2 separate regions of the Homo sapiens genome follow, and region 2 is linked to region 1. Evidence: fine-mapped QTL for protein levels in blood plasma. A gene starts in region 1. The other region holds a variant in brackets. All regions are shown on one strand. Distances are between the middles of the regions.

The links. PIP is the chance, under the fine-mapping model, that this variant and not a neighbour inherited with it causes the effect. Protein levels are from antibody-based Olink assays in UK Biobank. Linkage for the fine-mapping came from a reference panel and not from the study's own genotypes, which makes the PIPs less certain.
Region 2: its variant is fine-mapped to the plasma level of the ASPN protein (UK Biobank, PIP 0.99).

The regions. Positions count from the first base shown.
Region 1 is chr9:92,479,604-92,484,603 of GRCh38, reverse strand. ASPN (asporin) reads left to right here and starts at 2,098. Exons shown (of 8, transcript NM_017680.6): 1 at 2,098-2,311. All of the region lies in intron 5 of CENPP (centromere protein P), which reads right to left.
Region 2 is chr9:92,449,944-92,454,943 of GRCh38, reverse strand. All of the region lies in intron 5 of CENPP (centromere protein P), which reads right to left. Among named protein-coding and RNA genes, the nearest start is that of OMD, 28 kb to the right of the region's middle. The variant C/T (reference allele first, on the strand shown) is at 2,008.

The sequences.
Region 1 (5,000 bases):
TACAGCAATTTCACCTAACAAAAATACATACACATGACCCCCAAATGACAGACTGAGGAACGTTCATAGTACCTCTCCAAAAGGTAATTAATCTAGTTGAATATATAAACAATTTGTGGCTTATTCATGTATGAGAATACTATACAGTGACAAGAATGAACTACTGTGTATCACAATGACACGAATGGATCTCAAAAGCATGTCACTGAATGAAAAAAGCCAGATGCAAAAGAGAATGCACAGTATGATTCCATTTATATAAAGTTCAGGAAATAACCTATGGTGCTGAACTCAGGCTGTGACTTGAGGAGTAAGAGGAGGGATTCTGGATGTATGAGAATGGAGTGTGAGGCTGGGATTTCTTGATTGGGGTCATTTTGTAAAAATTAATTGAGTTGTACCATTATGATATGTTTTTTTTTGGTAACATACACTTCAATAAACAGTTCAGAAACAAAACATTGTGCAGGACAAACTGAATTTGACCCAAGGGCTTCCTGTTTATGACTGTGTTCTGAAGGAATTTAGGCAAACACTAGATGCTCTGGATACAAAGATTTTAAAAATCCAGTTCATATTTTCATTATGTTCCCAATTCATCCAGTTAACAGATACATTTGCAACTGAAATATACTTGAATAAATGAGAATATGAGCATTCTAAACCAAACAGGAGGGCCGTCATTCCCTAAGGTGCTGCAGGGCTAGGATGGGGCCTGAGTTACAGAGGGCCACTAATGGGACTACCGAGCTGCCTGGAACTGTCAGCCTAGAGGTCCAAGGAGGAGTACTTTATTTAAGTGAGGGGAGGATGAACACATAGCCAGCTGCTATGCACATCTGAGGCACATGTATTCTTTAGGACTGTAGCTGCCTTGCTTAACACAATGTGTGCCATTTCTCTGGAGAGAGGGAACAAACGATGGTCAGACTCTTGATGACAGTAGAGAACAGGTCTTCTAACCCACTGGAAAAGCTCTTTGCTGGCCTCCAAATCTATACAACAGTTGGGAAGAACCATTGGGGTCACTTACAACAGTAAGTCCTTGCCACTAGGGTTAGAAAACTGTCCTCTCAGGCCGGCCATGGTGGCTCATGCCTGTAATCCCAGCACTTTGGGAGGCCGAGGCGGGCAGATCACGAGGTCAGGAGATCGAGACCATCCTGGCTAACACAATGAAACACTGTCTCTATTAAAAAACCAAAAAATTAGCCAGGCGTGGTGGCGGGCGCCTGCAGTCCCAGCTACTCGGGAGGCTGAGGCAGGAGAATGGCGTGAACCTGGGAGGCAGAGCTTGCAGTAAGCCAAGATTGCGCCACCGCACTCCAGCCTGGGTGACAGAGTGAGACTCCGTCTCAAAAAAAAAAAAAAGAAAACTGTCCTCTCTTGAAGGTCTTAGTTGATGTAGAATTGGGCAGTCTCTTGGGGATGAGTGGAAAGGGGGTACAAATAATGATTTATTTTCAGGAAATAGCATCTTCCCTGCTCTAAGTCTCCCTAAATGTCAGTGAGGCCATAGCTAATATTCTCTTGAAAAGGGAAAGTTGTATGCATCCTAAGAGGGTGTTACTTGGACATGCATGTGTGTCTGTGTTATATCACATATGTTGAGTCCAGGGAGCAGTTCATGGAGCCTCATCCATAGTTTCCCTGACATGCTATAGCAGTGCTAAAAGCTTAAAAAAAAAAAAAAGTCTGGAGAAGTATGCATAATGCAATAGCTACAGTCATTAGAAGAAAAAAAAAGTATGGTTCTTTCTCAGGTACATCTGAAGTTTGGGTATATACTTCAGTAATGTTGGTATCCTTTATTCAGATTGATAAATATTTTATTAGTCTATACAGGTTGAGTAATTTTTGAAATTGTAATTTACAAATATTCATTCACTTAAGAATCTAATATTTTTAAAACTAGGTATTTCTTGAATGACTCCGACTGCACTTTCAATGGCCAGTTGCCATGCATTATTAAACTTTCTTTTTTTTTCTTCTTCAGAATCTTCCAGTAGACGTCTAGAGTTTAGCTAGAAGTCTTGGCTACGATACAAACAGTGATGGAAAACACATGAGCAGTAACAAGTTTTAATCTTGCTCCTCAGTACTAACATGGACTAATCTGTGGGAGCAGTTTATTCCAGTATCACCCAGGGTGCAGCCACACCAGGACTGTGTTGAAGGGTGTTTTTTTTCTTTTAAATGTAATACCTCCTCATCTTTTCTTCTTACACAGTGTCTGAGAACATTTACATTATAGATAAGTAGTACATGGTGGATAACTTCTACTTTTAGGAGGACTACTCTCTTCTGACAGGTATGTTTCATGTCTATCTTACAAGTATCGATGTATACTTTACAGTCAATACTAAGGAGACATTAATGTTATTAATAAATGCTTATAAATAATAGGATAAAGTCCAAAGTTTATCTCTATAATTTCTTAAAAATCAGCATTTAAATACAAACCTAAATTTGTACCTAAAATTATTCTAGTTTTATGTCTTACCTATAATGAATGTATTTTAAATATAATTATGTGACTTTTTTTTTCAGCTAAGTGAAAACCTGTCATTATGCCTTACCATAAATGTTAACATGATTGATTTTAAAAGTCATCTAAATAAACATCTTGTATGTTTATCTAGGAAAATAACATTGCTATAATAATGATCATGAAGTTTGGGGATATCACAGCTATATTAAATGAAACAGTAAATATATTTTTCAATATTTAAAATATTTTCTAATGTGTATTTAAAATGTGTGAATTACTGAAATGTCAATTTTACTTATACATTTGAATATTCATTTTTTTCCTTGATAAATGTCTTCCTTATTATAATGAAATGGCACTGAAAAGTTCAAATGGAAATCTATTCAATTCCAAGAAAGAATACTTATCAGCAATAGTTTAGCTAGCACTATATTCAATATGAAAGATTAGGAAATTTTCACAGCATGTATACAGTCAGAATTTAACACTTTCAAAGATTTCCTTTGTCTACTCCCAAAGTAAATTTCTGATTAAATTTTAGATTAAAAAATTTAAGCAATGTATTCAATATTCTACTCCCTAGTAATCTAAATAGCGCACAGCATTCTTTCATGTTAATCTATTCAGAGGTGTGGCACCCAGGAAACAGTGGCCACATGGTGTAGGGACTGAGTCATAAAGAACCTGAGGGGGTTGTATTTCCCTAAAAATAAAGTTGTTTAAATCCAAGAATCAAGCTGTTAAAAGAAAGAAATGAAAAAAGAAAGAAAAATCGAGCACAAGCCCACACACATAAAAGGATCCTGATGTTTTTAGTTTGTTTTTTGGCATTAAGGAGTATAGTGTAGTAGTGGAAAGAACAGAGGATATATAGTCTTCTGTTACAACTAACTACTCAATTAAAAACAAATATTCTGATAACTGATCTGAGGTTTGAGACAAAAACAATTAACTTTACAAGCACAAGTCTTGAGGCACTGTGGGAAACATCATAAAAATGGAGAGGCAGTAGATTTTGTTTTTTAAGACAGTAGCTTGATTGCTAGACATGTGGAGAAATTAATGAAGGGCAAAATTAGTATAAAAGGAAGAACAGCTAGAATGCTTTGTCAGAATGCTAGTTATACTTCTAAGGTAAAATTAACTACTTTTTAAGGAAAGTGCTATCTTTATCAGTATCCATGAACAAATGGTACTGTGAATAAGTTTCCAAATGCATGTTGGACTTTTAACTCATTTGTTAGCTTACAAGACTATGCCTTGATTACATCTGAATTTGGTTTGGATTCCTTCGGTGAAATATATGGAGTATGTTATATCACATTTATATGCTGAAATCTGCTACTGGTACCTGTGAACTGATAGGCATGTTTAAACCCAGGGGAAAAGTTGCCAAGCGGGCCTTTAAACATGGGATTTAAAAGCACAGTGACTTATTTACCTAATAATAGTGTCTGAGAGGAAATACCATTTCACTTAGATAAACTTTCTAAGTTTGTAGACCAGTTAAATGGAAACAAGAAAGCTTATGTGCTTCTTAAGCTTTATTTCCAGTCCATATGTTATGAACTCTTTTAAGAACTTGGCCAAACCTCCTTACCTAGGCTTTTCCAGAGGAAAGTCTGTTTACTGTCTGGAAGTAACTATGAGATTAAAATCCATTTAGGAGGACATGCAGTCTAGTGCAAAGCACAACCAACAAGCAGTGAGGAAGCCAGCCCTCAGCTCCACCACCTCCAGCCAGTTCTGGACGCTCACTGCCTCTGCTTTTTCTCAGTAAAAGAGGGCCATGGGGGGAAAGTCTCAAAGACCTCTCTTAGCTCTAGGCTACTATGATTTATTAGTAATAGCAGTAGCACTGGAAGAATACTCCAAACACTACTCTGATTAAGAGAGACTTGAAACCAAAATCCAAAGCTTTCCATGAGTGGAAAACACTGGCAAAACTGGTCTAAATCAGGGAAATATTGAGTATTCCTGAGAAGAAGATTTAATATTTTTAAAGGGTTTAAAAATAGAGTAACCTGAATACTGCCAAAACTAATAAAACAGAGGTTGTACCTCATTAATAAACTCAAAATAAAACAGCCAAAAGTCATATCATTTTAAATGACATATAATATTCTCTACATTCTTTCTGAATAATAAGAAAAAAATACTGCTATCTAGGGTTCTCTCCTAGACATTCCATTATTTTCCTATTGGTAAACAGTTGCACACTGAACTGGGGGAGGTTTAGGACCTATACTTGATTGTACTTATTAACAAAGCAGTGGAAGAGACCCAGCAAGAGACTCAGGTAAAGAGTGTAAATAATGAATTCCTCATGGTATCAAGGTTGGCCTGACTTTTTTCTTTGCAAGCAACCAGGATACACAAATGCAAAAGATTAGATTAATTGTAAAAGGCTAACAGAAGACAGAACTAGCAGAGAGAAATGAATTTTCCAGAAGGCATTTTTGAGTTTCCATATAAAGACTTTCCTAACAGCCATGGATGGACAACTGTG
Region 2 (5,000 bases), 30 kb after region 1:
GCTACTTTTTTGAGCAAAAAAAGAGGGAAGACCATGGTATGAGTAGAGGGATGATGATAGTATGATTTTAATAATAAATGTTCACCACCAGTAGTGCTAGAACCAGCAGTGTCCCGGGTTGCAGAACTTTGCCTTGGAAATCCAGTTCCATTTATAGTCTTGGGCAAGTTACCACCTCTCTGAGCCTGCTTCCTCACCTATAAAGGGTAGGGGTGACAACACTGAACAAGGTTGCTATGAAGAATAAATGATAAAAATATATATGCAATGCTTTGTAAACCATAAACATTTACAAAGAAAAATAAAAGATCATGAAGTCCTTAAAGATAAAAGAAAACAATACTATAATAATCACTCAAAAATTAAAATATTCTAAAGTTTCAATTGCTTTAATAAACAAAATAAATTTTTCTACAATGTAACAAAAAATTGTGATATCATGGCACTTATAAGAACATATGTAAAAGTAAAAAATGTTTACTGACATTGAAAAAACCCAACATCTTGAAATTCATCATTAAAATCATAAGGTAAATACTAAGGTTAGAATAAAAGACAGATTTATCTATGATCTGAATAGTGGAGCTTAAAGTAGCCAAGTTAATCTTTTTACAAAAAGAAAAGACAAAACCAAAATTTTAAAATACTGGAAATGATTCTTGAAATCCCTGCAATTAATTCACTGAGGTTTATGTTTGTATTTTCAATCTTCCAGCTGTTAGCCATTTTTGGTTTTAAGTTTGCAAAAAACAAATCACTAATAAAAATCATAAACAACCAAAACTGCATTAACATTTACTGCCAAAAACACATTTTCTGGTGAATACAAAATATTACCCACTGGAAAAATCCATTAAAGATTGAAAACAAGTGACTTACTATTTATTGGGTTTATGAAGGACTAAATTACTGAAGTGATTTTCTTTAACTATTATGAGGTATTTAGAAGTCACTAAAACAAAAACTTTTTTTTTTTCTTTTTTTTCCTGAGATGAGGTCTTTCCACAAATTGTCCAGGCTGGTCTCAAACTCTTGGGCTTAAGTGATCTTCCTGTCTCAGACTCCAGAGTAGATGGGATTACAGGCGTGAGCCACCACACCCAGCATTCCAAAAGCTTTTTTTAAAAAATTTCAATTTTCGTTTCCCTTAAGCTACCATACTATTTCTCTTTCATTCACAATTCAATCCCTTTTTGAAAGAATTGCCGCTTGGTGCAGAGCTGAGTTCAATTCCTGGGTATCCTTGTTAACTTTCCGTCTCACTGATCTGTCTAATGTTGACAGTGGGGTGTTAAAGTCTCCCATTATTATTGTGTGGGAGTCTAAGTCTCTAATAGACATCTACAGAACTCTCCACCCCAAATCAACAGAATATACTTTTTTTTCAGCACCACACCACACCTTTTCCAAAATTGACCATATAGTTGGAAGTGAAGCTCTCCTCAGCAAATGTAAAAGAACAGAAATTATAACAAACTGTCTCTCAGACCACAGTGCAATCAAATTAGAACTCAGTATTAAGAAACTCACTCAAAACCGCTCAACTACATGGAAACTGAACAACCTGCTCCTGAATGACTAATGGGTACATAACGAAATGAAGGCAGAAATAAAGATGTTCTTTGAAACCAATGAGAACAAAGACACAACATACCAGAATCCCTGGGACACATTCAAAGCAGTGTGTAGAGGGAAATTTATAGCACTAAATGCCCACAAGAGAAAGCAGGAAAGATCCAAAATTGACACCCTAACATCACAATTAAAAGAACTAGAAAAGCAAGAGCAAACACATTCAAAAGCTAGCAGAAGGCAAGAAATAACTAAAATCAGAGCAGAACTGAAGGAAATAGAGACATAAAAAACCCTTCAAAAAATTAATGAATCCAGGAGCTGGTTTTTTGAAAGGATCAACAAAATTGATAGACCCCTAGCAAGACTAATAAAGAAGAAAAGAGAGAAGATTCAAATAGACGCAATAAAAAATGATAAAGGGGATATCACCAC[C/T]GATCCCACAGAAATACAAACTACCATCAGAGCATACTACAAACACCTCTATGCAAATAAACTAGAAAATCTAGAAGAAATGGATAAATTCCTCGACACATACACCCTCCCAAGACTAAACCAGGAAGAAGTTGAATCTCTGAATAGACCAATAACAGACTCTGAAATTGTGGCAATAATCAATAGCTTACCAACCAAAAAGAGTCCAGGACCAGATGGATTCACAGCCGAATTCTACCAGAGCTACAAGGAGGAACTGGTACCATTCCTTCTGAAACTATTCCAATCAACAGAAAAAGAGGGAATCCTCCCTAACTCTTTTTATGAGGCCAGCATCATCCTGATACCAAAGCCTGGCAGAGACACCACAAAAAAGGAGAATTTTAGACCAATATCCTTGATGAACTTTGATGCAAAAATCCTCAATAAAATACTGGCAAACCGAATCCAGCAGCACATCAAAAAGCTTATCTACCATGATCAAGTGGGCTTCATCCCTGGGATGCAAGGCTGGTTCAATATACACAAATCAATAAATGTAATCCAGCATATAAACACAACCAAAGACAAAAACCACATGATTATCTCAATAGATGCAGAAAAGGCCTTTGACAAAATTCAACAACCCTTCATGCTAAAAACTCTCAATAAATTAGGTATTGATGGGACGTATCTCAAAATAATAAGAGCTATCTATGACAGACCCACAGCCAATATCATACTGAATGGGCAAAAACTGGAAGCATTCCCTTTGAAAAGTGGCACAAGACAGGGATGCCCTCTCTCACCACTCCTATTCAACATAGTGTTGGAAGTTCTGGCCAGGGCAATTAGGCAGGAGAAGGAAATAAAGGGTATTCAATTAGGAAAAGAGGAAGTCAAATTGTCCCTGTTTGCAGATGACATGATTGTATATCTAGAAAACCCCATTGTCTCAGCCCAAAATCTCCTTAAGCTGATAAGCAACTTCAGCAAAGTCTCAGGATACAAAATCGATGTACAAAAATCACAAGCATTCTTATACACCAATAACAGACAAACAGAGAGCCAAATCATGAGTGAACTCCCATTCACAATTGCTTCAAAGAGATTAAAATACCTAGGAATCCAACTTACAAGGGATGTGAAGGACCTCTTCAAGGAGAACTACAAACCACTGCTCAATGAAATAAAAGAGGATACAAACAAATGGAAGAACATTCCATGCTCATGGGTAGGAAGAATCAATATCGTGAAAATGGCCATACTGCCCAAGGTAATTTATAGATTCAATGCCATCCCCATCAAGCTACCAATGACTTTCTTCACAGAATCGGAAAAAACTACTTTAAAGTTTATATGGAACCAAAAAAAGAGCCCGCATCGCCAAGTCAATCCCAAGCCAAAAGAACAAAGCTGGAGGCATCATGCTACCTGACTTCAAACTATACTACAAGGCTACAGTAACCAAAACAGCATGGTACTGGTACCAAAACAGAGATATAGATCAATGGAACAGAACAGAGCCCTCAGAAATAACGCCGCATATCTACAACTATCTGATCTTTGACAAACCTGAGAAAAACAAGCAATGGGGAAAGGATTCCCTATTTAATAAATGGTGCTGGGAAAACTGGCTAGCCATATGCAGAAAGCTGAAACTGGATCCCTTCCTTACACCTTATACCAAAATTAATTCAAGATGGATTAAAGACTTAAACGTTAGACCTAAAACCATAAAAACCCTAGAAGAAAACCTAGGCATTACCATTCAGGACATAGGCATGGGCAAGGACTTCATGTCTAAAACACCAAAAGCAATGGCAACAAAAGACAAAATTGACAAATGGGATCTAATTAAACTAAAGAGCTTCTGCACAGCAAAAGAAACTACCATCAGAGTGAACAGGCAACCTACAGAATGGGAGAAAATTTTTGCAACCTACTCATCTGACAAAGAGCTAATATCCAGAATCTACAATGAACTCAAACAAATTTACAAGAAAAAAACAAACAACCCCATCAAAAAGTGGGCGAACGACATGAACAGACACTTCTCAAAAGAAGACATGTATGCAGCCAAAAAACACATGAAAAAATGCTCACCATCACTGACCATCAGAGAAATGCAAATCAAAACCACAATGAGATACCATCTCACACCAGTTAGAATGGCAATCATTAAAAAGTCAGGAAACAACAGGTGCTGGAGAGGATGTGGAGAAATAGGAACACTTTTACACTGTTGGTAGGACTGTAAACTAGTTCAACCATTGTGGAAGTCAGTGTGGCGATTCCCCAGAGATCTGGAACTAGAAATACCATTAGACCCAGACATCCCATTACTGAGTATATACCCAAAGGACTATAAATCATGCTGCTATAAAGACACATGCACACGTATGTTTATTGTGGCACTATTCACAATAGCAAAGACTTGGAACCAACCCTAATGTCCAACAATGATAGACTGGATTAAGAAAACGTGGCACATATACACCATGGAATACTATGCAGCCATAAAAAATGATGAGTTCATGTCCTTTGTAGGGACATGGATGAAACTGGAAATCATCGTTCTCAGTAAACTATCGCAAGAACAAAAAACCAAACACCGCATCTTCTCACTCATAGGTGGGAATTGAACAATGAGAACACATGGACACAGGAAGGGGAACATCACACTCTGGGGACTGTCGTGGGGTCGGGGGAGGGGGGAGGGATAGCTTTAGGAGATATACCTAATGCTAAATGACGAGTTAATGGGTACAGCACACCAGCATGGCACATGTATACATATGTAACTTACCTGCACATTGTGCACATGTACCGTAAAACTTAAAGTATAATAATAATAATAATAATAAAAAGAAAGAATTGCCTTACCTCAGTCTGTATTACCTTTCTATTCACATGGACCTTAATCTGTTGTGGCTGACCTAACAATTCTCCTTAATCTATTTTCCCAAAATTATCTTATACAAATAACATTAAACAATAATAGCTGATTTTAT